Homo sapiens: one gene and its partners. The protein of the gene in region 4 purifies or fractionates together with the protein of the main gene of each other region. This does not show direct contact. Each region holds a gene or a part of one and is shown on either strand. Other genes may lie near its edges.

What was found.
Region 1: the proteins of CYP51A1 (region 4) and SNX14 purify together in Homo sapiens (affinity purification with mass spectrometry; one large-scale study listed by BioGRID and IntAct). This does not show direct contact.
Region 2: the proteins of CYP51A1 (region 4) and POPDC2 purify together in Homo sapiens (co-immunoprecipitation; one large-scale study listed by IntAct). This does not show direct contact.
Region 3: the proteins of CYP51A1 (region 4) and HMGCLL1 fractionate together in Homo sapiens (co-fractionation; one large-scale study listed by BioGRID). This does not show direct contact.

The regions. Positions count from the first base shown.
Region 1 is NC_000006.12:85,583,859-85,587,358, forward strand, and holds part of SNX14 (sorting nexin-14), read right to left. Parts: intron 1-3,500. UniProt on the Homo sapiens protein: Plays a role in maintaining normal neuronal excitability and synaptic transmission. May be involved in several stages of intracellular trafficking. Required for autophagosome clearance, possibly by mediating the fusion of lysosomes with autophagosomes.
Region 2 is NC_000003.12:119,650,590-119,654,089, reverse strand, and holds part of POPDC2 (popeye domain-containing protein 2), read left to right. Parts: intron 1-3,500. UniProt on the Homo sapiens protein: Important for the maintenance of cardiac function.
Region 3 is NC_000006.12:55,436,193-55,439,692, reverse strand, and holds part of HMGCLL1 (3-hydroxymethyl-3-methylglutaryl-CoA lyase, cytoplasmic), read left to right. Parts: intron 1-133; coding exon 134-259; intron 260-3,500. UniProt on the Homo sapiens protein: Non-mitochondrial 3-hydroxy-3-methylglutaryl-CoA lyase that catalyzes a cation-dependent cleavage of (S)-3-hydroxy-3-methylglutaryl-CoA into acetyl-CoA and acetoacetate, a key step in ketogenesis, the products of which support energy production in nonhepatic animal tissues.
Region 4 is NC_000007.14:92,119,837-92,125,204, reverse strand, and holds part of CYP51A1 (lanosterol 14-alpha demethylase), read left to right. Parts: intron 1-1,351; coding exon 1,352-1,471; intron 1,472-1,889; coding exon 1,890-2,085; intron 2,086-5,368. UniProt on the Homo sapiens protein: Sterol 14alpha-demethylase that plays a critical role in the cholesterol biosynthesis pathway, being cholesterol the major sterol component in mammalian membranes as well as a precursor for bile acid and steroid hormone synthesis.

The sequences.
Region 1 (3,500 bases), on a different chromosome or scaffold from region 4:
GCTACCATTGACTTTCTTAACAGAATTAGAAAAAAAAATACTTTAAATTTCATATGGAAACAAAAAAGAGCCTATATAGCCAGACAATCCTAAGCTAAAAGAACACAGTTGGAGGCATCAAACTGCCTGGCTTCAAACTATACTACAAGGCTACAGTAACCAAAACAGCAAGGTACTGGTACCAAAACAGATATATAGACCAATGGAACAGAACAGAAGCCTCAGAAATAACACCACACATCTACAACCATCTGATCTTTGACAAACCTGACAAAAACAAGCAATGAAGAAAGGATTCCCTATTTAATAAATGGTGTTGGGAAAACTGGCTAGCCATATGCAGAAAACTGAAACTGGACCCCCTCCTTACACCTTATACAAAAATCAAATAAAGATGGATTAAACACTTAAACGTAAGACCCAAAACCATAAAAACCCTAGAATAAAACCTAGGCAATACCATTTAGGACACAGGCATGGGCAAAGACTTCACGACTAAAACACCAAAAGCAATGGCAACAAAGCCAAAATTGACAAATGGGATCTAGTTAAACTAAAGAGCTTCTGCACAGCAAAAGAAACTATCATCAGAGTGAACAGGCAACCTACAGCATGGGAGAAAATTTCTGCAATCTATCCATCTGAGAAAGGGCTAATATCCAGAATCTACAAGGAAGTTAAACAAATTTACAAGAAAAAAACAAACAACCCCATCAAAAAGTGGGCGAAGGATACAAACAGATCCTTCTCAAAAGAAGACATTTATGCAGCCAACAAACATATGAAAAAAAGCTCATCATCACGGGTCATTAGAGAAATGCAAATCAAAACCACAATGAGATACCATTTCATGCTAGTTAGAATGGTGATCATTAAAAAGTCAGGAAACAACAGGTGCTGGAGAGGATGTGGAGAAACAGGAACACTTTTACACTGTTGGTGGGAGTGTAAATTAGTTCCACCATTGTGGAAGACAGTGTGGTGATTCCTTAAGGATCTAGAACCAGAAATACCATTTGACCCAGCAATCCCATTACTGGGTATATACCCAAAGAATTATAAATCATTCTGCTATAAAGACACATGCACACGTTTGTGTATTGCAGCACTATACACAATAGCAGAGACTTGGAACCAACCGAAATGCCCATCAGTGATAGACTGGAAATACTATCACCATGAAATACTAGGCAGCCATAAAAAAGGATGAGTTCATGTCCTTTTCAGGAACATGGATGAAGCTGGAAACCATCATTTTCAGCAAACTAACACAGGAACAGAAAACCAAACACTGCATGTTCTTACTCATAAGTGGGAGTTGAACAATGAGAACACATAGACACAGGGGAGGGGAATATCACAAACCAGGACCTGCTGGGGAGTGGGGGACTGGGGGAGGGATAGCATTAGGAGAAATACCTAATGTAGATGATGGATTGAGGGTGCAGCAAACCACCATGGCACATGTATACCTATGTAACAAACCCACATGTTCTGCACATGTATCCCAGAACTTAAAGTATAATTAAAAAAAAACAAACAACAACAACAACAAAAACACTGAAAACCAATAAGCTAAGCATTCAGAAACTTGGGGGGAAAAACAATAAATCCAAACACATGAAAAGGAAGGAAATAGTCAAGAGCAGAAATCAACAAAATAGACAACAATGACAAATTAACAAAATATAAGCTAGTTCTTTGAAAAAATTAATAAAACAACCAAACTTCTAACTGGATACTAATGGAGGTTAGTAGGGTACCAATTATTACTCTAAAAATTGATAAAGAGTAAGCATTTATCCTACTTTTCCAATTTGAACTATCTATCAGAATAACTAAATAGACCTAACGGATGGAGTAAAGCAATTCTACAAAAAAGAATCAAACTTAAAAATACAGAAGAAATGAGAGAATTCGAGAATAACCATGTTGTAACCCATAATTAAGTAACTGATTCAAGAAATAAATAAATGGTAAAACCAAAGAGTAAGTTTGTTGGACACAGTATCGGTGGACATTAACTGAACCCATTAAAAGTGAAGCAATCCTATCTTACATATCCACTGATGTGATGCAATGGAATGTACATGGCATCACTAAAGTCTTCTTGCACCACTCCCCGCAACAGGAAAAAAAAAAAAAAAAAACTAAATCTAATTGAGCCTATAGATCAAACACTGTGACTACCAAAAATACAAATGTGAGGATTAAAATACAAGACACTACAAGGAAACCACAACAAAATCCAGAATGTGAACAAATGATCCAGTTTCCTCAACAAGTCAATGGCAAGGAGAAAAAAATGGTGAGGAGGGATCTTCCAGATCAGCAGTTGACAAATGATGGCCTGTGGACAAAAGTATACCTGTTTTTGTATGCCCCTCATACTAAGAAAGGTTTTACATTTTTAAAGGGTTTTTTAGAAAGAAGAATAAGCAACAGAGACTTAGCATGGTATACAAAGCCTAAAATATTTACTACCTAACACTTTACAGAAAAAAATGTGTCAACCCTTATTCTAGATTACAAGACATTTAGAAAAGCTTGAGATGTAGGAACCAAATAGGAGTACAACTTGTTTAGATACCAATTAGAACAACTGCACTATATATTTTTACCCAATAGGGAAAATTTTTATTATGGAGTAGTTATTAGATGATATTAACCAATTATTGTTAATTTTGTAATATTATAGTTTTGTATGGAAGTGATTTTTTTTTTATTTCTATCTTTTATAGAGACATGGTCTTGCACTGTCACCCAGGCTGGAGTGTCGGGGCACAATCATATTTCACTGTAGCCTTGAACTCTTGGCTCCAGGAATCCTCCCACCTCAGCCTCCCGAGTTAGCTAGGACCATAGGCTCGCTACTTTTTTTTCTTTTTTTGGTACAGACAGGGTCTTTCTGGCCAGGTGCATAATTTCAGCAATTTGGGAGGCCGAGGTGGGCAGATCACTTGAGGTCAGGAGTTTGAGACCAGCCTGGCCAACATGGCAAAACCCCATGTTGGGAGTCTCCACTAAAAACACAAAAATTAGCCAGGCATGATGGTGGATGCCTGTAATCCCAGCTACCTGGGAGGATGAGGCACAAGAATTCCTTGAACTGAAGAAGTGGAGATTGCAATGAGCCAAGATCACGCCACTGCACTCCAGCCTAGGTGACAAAGTGAGACTCCATCTCAAAAAAAAGAAAGAGAGAGAGACAGTGTTTTTCTATGTTGCCCAGGTTCATCTCCAACTCCTGGCCTCAAGTGATCCTCCCACCTCCACCTCCCAGAGAGCAAGAATTACAGGCATGGGCCACCTCACCCACTCTATAAGACATTTCTTAAAAAGATAAGGCAAAAAAAAAAATATGGCAAAATATGGATAGTTGTTAAAGTTGAGTAATGGGTGCTTGCAAGTTTTTTACACTCTCTTATGTATGCTTGGAAATTTTCAATATCAAAAGTTAATTAAAAAGACAAACCTCTAGCAAGACAGATCAAGGATAC
Region 2 (3,500 bases), on a different chromosome or scaffold from region 4:
GCCCCTACTCTCCCCTCTGAAATGCATTTCCCCTTCTAGATGAGACCACGGAACCTCACTTCCACTGTGAAGCCTGCTTCCACCCCACAGCCTCACCAGCTTCCACCCCACAGCCTAGCACTCCTGTGTGCCTGTTCTAGTCCTTTTACTTATGCTAACTGGTGCACATCTTGCTGTCTGTTCTAATAATCTGGTCTCCTTTCTGTCTTCTGCACAGTGAACTCTGAAGTACAAATCTAGGCTTTTCCCTCTCTGTTCCCAGACTCTAAAGGAAAGTACCTGGAGCACAGCAGCTGTTCAGTAAAGAATTGCTTGCCGGGCGCGGTGGCTCACGCCTGTAATCCCAGCACTTTGGGAGGCTGAGGTGGGTGGATCCTGAGGTCAGGAGATCGAGACCATCCTGGCTAACACGATGAAATCCCGTCTCTACTAAAAATACAAAAAATTAGCCGGGCATGGTGGCGGGCACCTGTAGTCCCAACTACTTGGGAGGCTGAGGCAGGAGAATGGCGTGAACCCGGGAGGCGGAGCTTGCAGTGAGCCGAGATTGCGCCACTGCACTCCAGCCTGGGCGACAGAGTGAGACTCCGTCTCAAAAAAAAAAAAAAAAGAATTGCTGAACTGGTTTGCCACTGGGCAGCTGGTGTCCCAGAGGACTCCATGGGGCATTCACATACATGCTCCAATGCAGGTTCCTGGCTGCCTGGCCCCTACTCTTCTTATCTCTGCCAATCCCTCAGGCTTTGGTCACTTTCTTTGTAGCTCTCACTTATTGAATGGCTAGCATGTGGCAGGCACTACGTATCATATTGCCTCATTGATTCTCATAACAACTCTATGGGTTGAATATGATTATTACTCCATTTAACAACTGAGGAAACTAAGGCCCAAAAACATCAAGTAATTTGCCCAGGGTCTTCAGCTAGAAAGTGACAAAGCCAAGTTGCCTGGATCTACCATTTCTGTTCTTTATTAAAATGGGAAGGTCACCAGAAGAGTAGAGTTTACACACACACATACACACACACACATGCACACGCATGCACACACGCGCACACACACTCACTCACCCTTTTAAGGACTCCCCTGCCTGGATAGTTTGCTGGACCTGGAAACACTGGATTCCATGTGTCTCCTACTACTTTTATCAGGGAGTCCCTCAAGCCAACATATGAGCCAACCCCGGAACAGACACACACCGGGCAGTGCTACCTGGCAGGGCCTGCTTCTGCCCCCACCCTGACACTTGGCTCTGTGATGATGGAGCCTGAGAGGCAGTCCTGATCCCACTGCCAGGGTCACCAGCCACAGATCCACTTCCATCATGTTCCTACCCTGACCTCCGTCCACACACCCTCCCTAACTAGTCCAGAAACCTTCTTCAGGAACTCTCTCAGGCACATGAGAACCTCCAGGAGGGCTCAGTCAGGACCTGAGCCAGCTGGACCAGGCCTCTTTCTGACACTGACACGGAGGAACAGGTGGTGGGTAAGCCGGGTGTCCTCCCCTAAGTTACGCTCAAGAGGAAGGGCTGTAACCTCACATGGCCTCTCAGCCTGGAATGTAGGTATGGTCATGTTCCTCCCATTTATATTTTTAGCGTGTACCTCCTTTGGGAGTAATGAGAGCCACACATTTGCTATTGGCTGTGTAAAGTCCCATTTCCTCTTTGCAAATGTCAAGTGTTATCTTAAGTTAGAGTTCATCCTGTCCTTGCCTTTTGCAATTACATAGTCTTTGTTGACTGAGAGCAATCCACAGTGACAGCCTAAATTATAATTCACATTGTACCTAATATAAATCAATCAGCATTCCAGCACACCTCTCGACAATTCAATTAAGTCAGAATTCATTGTGTGTTCGGCACTGTGACACTCATTAGTCACCAAGAACACAGCACAGGAGGGATCACACAGAAATCATCACTGTTTTTCTAATTTGCATCCTATCTTACTGGACCTAAGTCCTATTTACATAGGTTATCTCATTTAATTCATTCAACCAACATCTGAGATGAGTATTAAAAAAAAAGCTAAATACTTGTCAAAACGTTACAACAGATATGTCTATATATATGGGAGAACCAATCAAGAAGCAGATTTCAGGAGGACCTTTGGGGAAGGATTTTATACAGGACATGAGAAAGCAACATTAGAGGCTGGGCGCGGTGGCTCACACCTATAACCCCAGCACTTTGGGAGGCCGAGGCAGTTGGATTATGAGGTCAGGAGTTTGAGACCAGCCTGGCCAACATGGTGAAACCCCATCTCTATTAGAAAATACAAAAATTAGCCAGGGTGGTGGCAGGTGCCTATAATCCCAGCTACTCGGGAGGCTGAGGAAGGATAATTGCTTGAACCCGGGAGGTGGACATTGCAGTGAGCTGAGATCACACCGCTGTACTCCAGCCTGGGTGACAGAGCAAGACTTCGTCTCAGGGGGGCGGTGGGGTGGGGGAAGAAAGTGACATTAGGTTGTTTTGCAATATACAAGATTGGCTGTCTTCCCTTGATTCATTTATTCACTTCAATAATATTTATTGAAAACTTAGTATATACCAGGCACTGTTAAAAGGATTTGAAATATATCAGTGAACAGAACAGATGAAGGTCCCTCCCCTCATGCAATTTACATTCTAATGGGGGAGACAAAAAGCCATAGGCATAATGAATAAGTAAATTATATAATTTGTTAGAGGATAATCACTGCTAGTTTAAAAAAAAAAACCTAGAGTAGTGCAAGGGAGAAATGGTGGCAATTTTAAATAGGGTGGTCATGGAAATCCTTGTTAAGCAGATAACATTTGAGCAAAAACCTGAGAGAGATGACAGGTGAGGTCTGTGAATATCTGGGAAAAGCATATCAGACAGAGGAAAGAGCCAGTGCAAAGGCCCTGAGGTGGGGCCAGTGTGTTTGATGCACAGAAAGGAGGACAGTGGACCTGGAATGGAGAGAGGAAGGGGAGGGAATAGCAGGAGAGAAAGTTGGAGAGGTGACGAGGTAGCAAGATCATGTAGGGCCATAGCATATATTGTCTAGATACAGCCAAAAGGATTTTCTAAAGGGTTGGATATAGTATGTGAGAGAAAGAGAAGATCAAGGAAGACTCTAAGGCTTTTGGCCTGAGCAACTGGACAGGTGGTGCTGCTGTCAACTGAGACAAAGAAAGCTGCAGGTAGAGCTGCTTTCGGGGGACTAGGAAGTTCAGTGTTTGATGTTAGGTTTGCATCATCTGTGGACATTTGAATGGAGATGCTGCATAGGCAACTGGATATTTAAGTCTGAAATTCAGGAATGAGATCTGGGCCTGAGACATAAATTTGGGAGTTGGTTGTATGCAGATGATATTTAAAGCCATTGGATAGGATGAGCTCACCAAGTGAGTGAGTGTGGATGGAAGAGGGAATGGTTCAAGAGCGGAGCCCTGGGATACTTTAGTGGTGAGGAGTTGGAGAGGAAAGGAGGAAGCAGCAAAGGAGCTTGAAAAGGAACAATCATGA
Region 3 (3,500 bases), on a different chromosome or scaffold from region 4:
ACTGGGTAAGTGAATATATTTGAATAACCAGTTCAGATTTTGCTTATTTGCAGTTTACCATAGGTTAAATAGAAATGCAACAATTTACATGCCATAAACACACAAGCTTTAGGTGGTTTGGTTTGTTTTCCAGATGGGAATTAATGTGGTGGACTCCGCAGTATCCGGATTAGGTGGCTGCCCTTATGCAAAAGGTGCTTCTGGGAATGTAGCCACTGAGGATTTGATATATATGCTTAATGGCCTGGGGCTCAATACAGTAAGTTACTTTAACGTATTTTAATATTCATGCATTCCTTGCAGCTCCAAATTGCAAAGCTTCTAAGATGTGGGAAGCAATTTTGAGGTCAAAGTTTTACTACACTTTTGCTATTTGCTAAAATGCACAGTGGGAAAATGCAATAAAAATTCTTTTGGGGTCTTTATAAAGTAACTCATTGCTATAGCTCAATCACCAATAATGCTACCATTTCACATTTTTATAGTGCTTCATGACCTCTAAAGAACTTTTTCATGTATTATCTGATTTGATTTTATACACTTTGTGAGTTGGAGCCTGTGTCTTTGCTGTTACGATTGTTGAGTTTTGCAGTTTTGTTTTTTGTATGGATGTTTTTCTTGGAGAAAATGGAGATCTTGATTGTCTCAGTGACAACTGTAGCTTCTGGAAGAACTCCCAGGGCACTTTTTAAATGATCAGTGAAAGAGGGGAGCTTCATAACACTTAGCATATGAGACACTGGATGGCAAGAATAGTCTCTTTGCAAGTTGTACCGGAAAAGTCACGTGCTATGTAACCACATCCACCAAATTCAGCACCTTGTTTTGCCCTATGATTGTTAACACAACCTGTTAGTCTATAGAACCGATTTATTTAGGAAAAAAATAAAAATCACAGATGATTAGACATTTAGAATTTCTGAGATGTAAAATAATCATCTGTATTGTAAAATGAATTTTTTTACTCTCTGCTGCTCCTATTCCTCCTTTTTCCTCATTCTACTTACATTAATGCTCCGGCTGCATTAAACTTGCTTCTAGTCTACAGTTCTGTACCATTTTATTCCTCACTTCTACTCCTTGCTCAGGTTTTCACTACCATGTGAAATGGCCTTATGCCTCGTATTCCATTTGGCCTGGAAAGTAAGACACCACCATCCTAAAAATAAGCCGTCTGGCATCTCCCTGCCTATCCCCCAGGTCAAACTGTTAGGTCCCATTCCTTAGTGTTTTCATGTTTTCCTCTGAACTTACCACAAGGTTATATAATTATCTTGTTTATGTGTCTATCTTCCCATGCAACCACAGAGCAATTATGACAGCTTATTCATACTTTATACTTGGTGCCTGTGGCATAAAGATGCTCCATAAATATTTATTGAAAGACTGATTTCACTTGGCACTAAACACCAACAGCTGTTGCCCATAAACACCAAAAGCTATTGCCTATTTTCTCTGGTTAGAAATAAATGTTATTTCATTTACATCGTATCTTAATCATTTATATCAGAAGCTAATGACATAAATGAGGGTAAATAGCTCCTTTCTTAGAAATTTAGATGACTGAATCGAACTCCATAGCTGATAGCTGATGCTTAATATATGCCAGTTATGTTCCATAACTCTGGAGTCCAAATGCAAATAAATCAAGTTTATTCCTAAAAATTTCAACATCCAAGGGTTGCTACATTGAGTAGCTGCCACAATTCAACTAGTCACCCAAGGCAACAAACCAGGATTCTCTATAGAATTTAATCTCACTATGGATTCCATGTCCAATCAGTTACCAAGAGCTGCTAATCTGACTTTAAAATATTTTGGTTGTCCTTCCCTTACTACCTCTGCTATGACTACATTGATGCAGGTCTGCATCTCTTTCCTGGGTGTTCATCCTATATACTGGTCGCTGGCTCCAGACTTGCCTTTAAAATCTATCTTCCATGCTACCATCAAAGGGTTACACCTAACATATAAGTATGAATAGGCTCTACGTCTGCTTGAGCAAGGATCAGTGGATTCTAATTTCCTGAAAGGAAGCCTGTGCTCTATCACATAATCTGGCCTATTATTACCTTTTCCAGGGTTAATGGTATATTTTGCCTTTATCCATATACGCCATGGATATTTAAGATATCTTGGACTGCTCTTCTCTCTGCCTGCATACAGTGCCCCATATATCCTCCATCCTCTTTTATACATTTTGTATAAACCTCAGGTCAGGCTTTACCCTTCTTGGCACTTTTCCCTGACACATTCCTTTCTGCATTTTTTTTTCCTCAGTGGGTTGATGGCCTCATATCTCTGCCTCCGTAATAACCTGGGCATATCTCTATTTGTGGCTTTAACTATGGTACAGAATTTTCTGTTGTGAGTCCACATTGCTTGCTTGAACTTGAAGGCAGAAACCACATTCTACGTGAGGTTCTTGAAACTCCAGAATCTATCATAGTATACGAGACATATTTAAGCACCCGACAAATGATTTAAGAATACATGCAGTGTTGTTTCATAATGATATCTACTGGTTAAATAAAATGGTAGAGAAAAGCCAAAACAAAATTCTTCTTTGGTGCGATATCAACAAATTCTACTGTATAATTGTGACAAATGGACTTACTGAAAAGAGAAGAAAGACATTAATGACAAAAATCTTTCTGTCAACCCTTGCTGGATGTAATTTATAAGTGAAAGGCACCTGAAGTTAATTGTTTACAGAATTTAAGTATCATTGGATTAAGGATGTTAAACAGATACTCCACGTAAAGCCGTTACCACGACAAAACCAACTTTCTCAAACCAAAGCAAATGTTAGTATCCTGAAAACAACTTTGTAATAAAAAGACATCATGAAAATAATTTACAAGTATCACTTTACAAAATATTTTTAATTCTTAAAGAGATAAGTAATTAGCTATATCGAAATGTCTCCAATTTCTAAAATGATATTCATTGTTATGAAAAGCCCCTATGAGTTTTTATACTTGTCTATTTTATGAAAGTGACAAGTTTTCATAGATATTAAAAAGTACTTTATAATAGCAAGGAAAACTGAATATTTTCAATTTTAAGCCCACATTGTTTCTAGTCCATATTGAGGGGGAACATAGAAGCTTATGAAATGCCACATAAGGGCAAGTTTGTGCTTAATCCACTTAATGCTTTGCCTCCTCCGGTGACAACAAAAGTGCTGGGTGGAAACTTTGATAGTGACCCTTTCCTTACACTAAAGCCAAGAGCATGTCCTGAACTTGCCCTTTATACCCAGCTGCATATCTGTCATCCATGGATTTACCTGAGCTTTTGTTGATCCTATTTATACTTTCAGACAGTACAACCTCTCAGGCGAACAAGTTCCAGATGTGTACTAAATACCACTTCATTTTATTTCACTTGCAACTACCTCCTTCAATATCATACTAGTAATAGTATTTCTGGCCTTGGTTTAAAAAATATATATGTATATATATGCATACACCTTTTCTGTAATCCTTATGGCTTTT
Region 4 (5,368 bases):
GCCCTGGACTCATAGTGGGTTCTCCATAAATGTGCATTTCTTTTTTTTTTTTTTTTTTTTGGTGATGGAGTCTTGCTCTCTCGCCCAGGCTGGAGTGCAGTGGCATGAGCTCGGCTCACTGCAAGCTCTGCTTCCCAGGTTCACGCCATTCTCCTGCCTCAGCCTCCCGAGTAGCTGGGACTACAGGCACCCGCCACCAAGCCTGGCTAATTGTTTTGTACTTTTAGTAGAGATGGGGTTTCACCGTGTTAGCCAGGATGGTCTTGATCTCCCGACCTTGTGATCCGCCCGCCTCGGCCTCCCATAGTGCTGGGATTACAGGCGTGAGCCACTGCACCTGGCCCATAAATGTACATTTCTACCTGCCTGTTTCTACCTGCTCTGTCTCTTGGATGAAGTCAGAGCTTGCTATGTTAGGCCCTTCACATTCTGGCCCAGTCTTTCTTTCTTCTACTCATACCAACTAATTTAACCAGATTATTCAATTCACTTTCTTAAACAGGCCTATGTTTTCCTGGTTCGACTGTATTCATACAGTTAAGCCCCAACATCTTCTCTTCTGTACACATGGTTTCAGTTGATCCTCAATAACAGATTAACAGTCTTGTAAATGAAACAGAGTAGGAGTTTTTTTTAGAAGGCTTGATTTAAGAGGGGGCTTGGGAGTCAGACTGCCTAGTTTTAAATTCCAGCTCCAATGTTTGCTTTCTGTGTGATCTTATGCAGCTAGCTATAACTTGAGGTTAATAGTATGTACCTCACAGGAAGATAAAAGTGAGTAATTCATGTAAAACACTTAACATGGTACCTGCTACATAGTGAACATACTATTTAAAGGTAAAGTTTAGGAGTTGAAGCTTGTTTTCTGAATCTGCTAGTATTTTCACCCCCTACAAAAAACTATTGTATTAGAAAGTGAAAAGTAGAACCAGATTCCATGGAAGAACCAGAGTGACTCTTCTGCTTTAAGACTTGATTTGGTATTAAAATTGGAATTTTATGTTAATTTAAAAGAGTATCCTACTTTCTGTTGAACTGGAAAATACTTCTAAAGGAATTTCTTGCTTGTTTTAGGCCTTTAGTTTGAACACAGGCAATGTGTTAAGAATCTGGGATATATATGTTAAATAAAGCACAGTTCTTGCCCTTAGGGACTATGGACATTTTTAACAATGTAAGATTTTCATGACTTCCAGTATGTTCCTGGTTCTGATTTTTTTGTCAATTATTTTAGAGTCATTAAAGTTGGTTAAATAAGATGCTTTATGCTCGGTCCTGGTTCTCAAAATGAATTTGATCCTAGAAGGTTATTTCTTTATTTAAGAAAATCATCTTTATCTTTTAATTACAGACGCAGGGACAGAGCTCATCGGGAAATCAAGGATATTTTCTATAAGGCAATCCAGAAACGCAGACAGTCTCAAGAAAAAATTGATGACATTCTCCAAACTTTACTAGATGCTACATACAAGTAAGAGCTATTCAGATAACATATTAAGCTGAAGCAGGAAATTACACATTAAAACACAGTTAAATAGTATTTCCAGTTAAAAAACAGTGATGCTGGCAAAATAAGTTGGTAGCTGTGATCTTTGGACTCTTTAAATTGTTGAGACATAAACTATTGGCATCCTGTGTCTTACTGTAATCCCAGTGACTGGGTATGGTAAAAGTTTGCTAATGAACTGTAATGGAGTCTTTTGTAATCAAAATCGTTTTGTGCTGGTCTGTCTCTTCCCTAAGAGAAAAAAAACTCTTGACTTGTGATAGTCAAATATAAGAGACCACTATACCTGAAAAATGTATTCATTATGACACTTTATTTAAAGGTTGAGGCATGAAATGTATCTGCCAAAATGTTAAATTTGTGTCTTTGGTTCATTCCTTAGGGATGGGCGTCCTTTGACTGATGATGAAGTAGCAGGGATGCTTATTGGATTACTCTTGGCAGGGCAGCATACATCCTCAACTACTAGTGCTTGGATGGGCTTCTTTTTGGCCAGAGACAAAACACTTCAAAAAAAATGTTATTTAGAACAGAAAACAGTCTGTGGAGAGAATCTGCCTCCTTTAACTTATGACCAGGTTTGTTGGATTTTTCAGTTTCATTGCTGCCTTATGACTTTGAGGATCTGTGGCTAATTTTTAAAAGGGACAATTTGAGATTTTCTATATACTATAGCTTAAATTGATCAGCTTCTCTATTTTTAGCAAATTCCCTATAACCTTACCTAAAATATCTTAATGTTATTGCTTCTTGCCATTAAGCTTTATCAGATATGTTTTGGGTTGATGGCTTAGAGATCCTTGGGGATGTTTCTTTGGTACTTACTTCCTCTGCTTCAAAGTCTGGCTTCTGTACATAGAGGATATTATGTGCATGTTGTGTGTCTTATGAAGTGTAGAAGCCTCTGAATTACTTAGAATTCTGTATGTCCAGAGTGGCCTGGGCATGAGCAGAGACTTCTAAAAGTAGTAGTAGTAGTAGTAATGAGGACAAGACATTTACAAATACTACATGCAACTTGCTGGGTGGAAAGGAAGAGAGGACAACTCACTGCACAACCTGACATTCCATCTTGGAAGCAAACCTTGGTGATGTCATCTTCCTGTTATCTTTTGTGCTTTTGGTCCTATATTAATATGGCACATTACACTGATTTTCAGATGTTAATTGTATTCCTGGGATAAATCCTACTTTGTCATGGTGCATAGTTCTTTCTATATGTTACTACATATAAACTTGCTGGTGTTTTGTTGAGGATTTTTGCATCTATATTCATAAAGGATATTGATCTCTAGTTTCACTGTGATGTCTTTGACTGGTTTTGATATCAGGATCATACTCATCTCATAGAATGTATTTGGAAGTATTCTTTTTTTCTTCTAATTTTTGGAAGAGTTTGTGGATGATTGGTGTTAATCCTTTTTTACATATTTGCAAAAATTCAGCAGTGAAATCATCTAGATCTGTGCTTTTCTTTCTGAGAAGACTTTACTTACTAATTCAATTTATTTGTTACAGGTTTATTCAGATATTCCATTTCTTCTTATGTCAGTTTCAGTAGTTTATATCTCTCTAGGAATTTGTCCATTTCATCTAGGTTACCTAATTTGTTGGCATACAATTGTTCATAGTATTCTCATAATCCTTTTTATTTCTGTAAGCTCAGTAGTGATGTCTCAACACTCATTCTTGTTTTTAGTAACTTAAAATAACAGCTTAACTGATATATTTACATAGCATAAATCCATCCATTTAAAATGTACACTTTGTGGTTTTTAGCATATTAAGAGTTGGGAAACCATCATCATAATTTAATTTTAGAACATTTACATCACTCCCAAAAGAGAGCTGGTACCCATTAGCAGTCATGCTTCATTCTCCCTGACTGCTGCCCCTGGCAACCATTAATCTCCTTTTGCCTCTGTGAGTTTGCCTATTCTGGATATTTCATGTAAATGGGATCATACAATTTGTAGTCTTTTGTGACTACCTTGTTTCACTTAGCATGTTATCAGGGTTCTTCCATGTTGTAGCATGTATCAGTACTTCAGTCTTTGTTATTACCAATAATATTCCATTATATGGATAGACCACATTTTGTTTATTTGTTCATCAGTTGATGGACATTTGAGTTGTTTCCACCTTTTAAACTATTATGAATAATGCCGCTCTAAACGTTTGTGTACTGATTTTATGTGGACATGTGTTTTCAATTTTGGGGGGTCATACCTAGGAGTAGAATTGCTGGGTTATAAGGTAACTTTGAAGAACTGCCAGACTGTTTTAAAAAGTGGCTGCACCACTTTCAAATCTCACTAAACAGTATATGTTGGTCCTGACTTCACCCCCTCACCAAACTTGTTACTTGATTTTTTTATTATAATAGGTGTGAAGTGATACTTTTTTTTTTTTTTTTGAGACAGAGTCTTGGTGTGATGCCCAGGCTCTAGTGCAATGGCGCGACCTTGGCTTACTGCAACCTCGGCTTCCCAGGTTCAAGCTATTCTCCTTCCTCAGCCTCCCAAGTAGCTGGGTACACACCACCACGCCTGGCTAATTTTTGTATTTTTGGTAGAGACAAGGTTGTACCATATTGGCCAGGCTGGTCTTGAACTCCTGACCTCAAGTCATCTGCCCGCCTTGGCCTCCCAAAGTGCTGGGATTACAGGTGTGAGCCACCATGCCCAGTTGGTATTTTGTTTTGATTTTGCATTTCCCTGGTGACTAGTGATGTTGAGTGTCTTATGATGTGTTCTTTGGCTTTGGTATACTTCTTTGGAGAAATGTCTGCTCACATCCTGTTCCCATATTTAAAATGAGTTGTCTTTTTATTATTGAGTTGTAAGAGTTCATCTATTTTTTTTTAATGTGCTTTTGGTGTCAGAGAAACTAATGCCTAATCAAAGTGTATGAAGATTTATTTCTGTGTATTCTTCTTAGTGTTTTGTAGTTTCATATCTTACATTTAGGTCTTTGATCCATTATGAATTAATTTATGTATATGATGTGAGGTCATCATTCTTTTGCATGTGTTTATCCAGTTGTCCCACACTGTTTGTTGAAAAGACTATTTTTTCCACGTTGAATTGTCTTTGTAAAAAAATCTATTATAGCCAGGCGCAGTGGCACGTGCCTGTATTCTCAGCTACTGAGAAGCTGAGATGGGAAGGTCGCTTGAGCTCAGGACTTGGGGTCCAGCCTGGGCAACATAGCGAAACCCTGTCTCTGAAAAAATAAATACATTTTAAAAAGCCTCTTGACCATAAATTTAAGGCTTTATTTCTGGACTCAGTTCTATTCCATTGATATGTTTAGTCTGATGCCATTACGTAGTTTTGTAATAAGTTTTGAATTCGGGAGTGTGAGTCCTCTGACTTTGTCCTTTTCAAGGCTGTTTATCTACTCCTAGTCCCTTTAGTTTCCATATGAATTTTGGGGTCAGTGTGTCAGTTTCTGCAAAGAAGCTAGCTGAGATTTTTGACAATGATTGCATTGTATCGCCATATTAATTTGGGAGCACAATTTTAGTCTTTAAATCTGTGAACATGAGATGTCTTTCTCTTATTTTAGTTCTTTAATTTCTTTCAACAATGTTTTATAGTTTTTGGTGCACAATGTTTAAACTTCTCTTGTTAAATGTATTCTTAAGTATTTTATTATTGTTATTTTTTTGATGTTATTCTTTCTTCTGCCAGTCCAAATCTGCTGTTGATCCCCTCGGGTGAATTTTTCATTTCAGTTCTCATACTTCTCAGTTCTTGAATTTCTATTTGGTTCTCTAAAAAAATAATATATTGATATTCTCCATTTTACTAGAGATATCTAGGCATATTTTGCTATAGTTCTTTGAACCTGTTTATA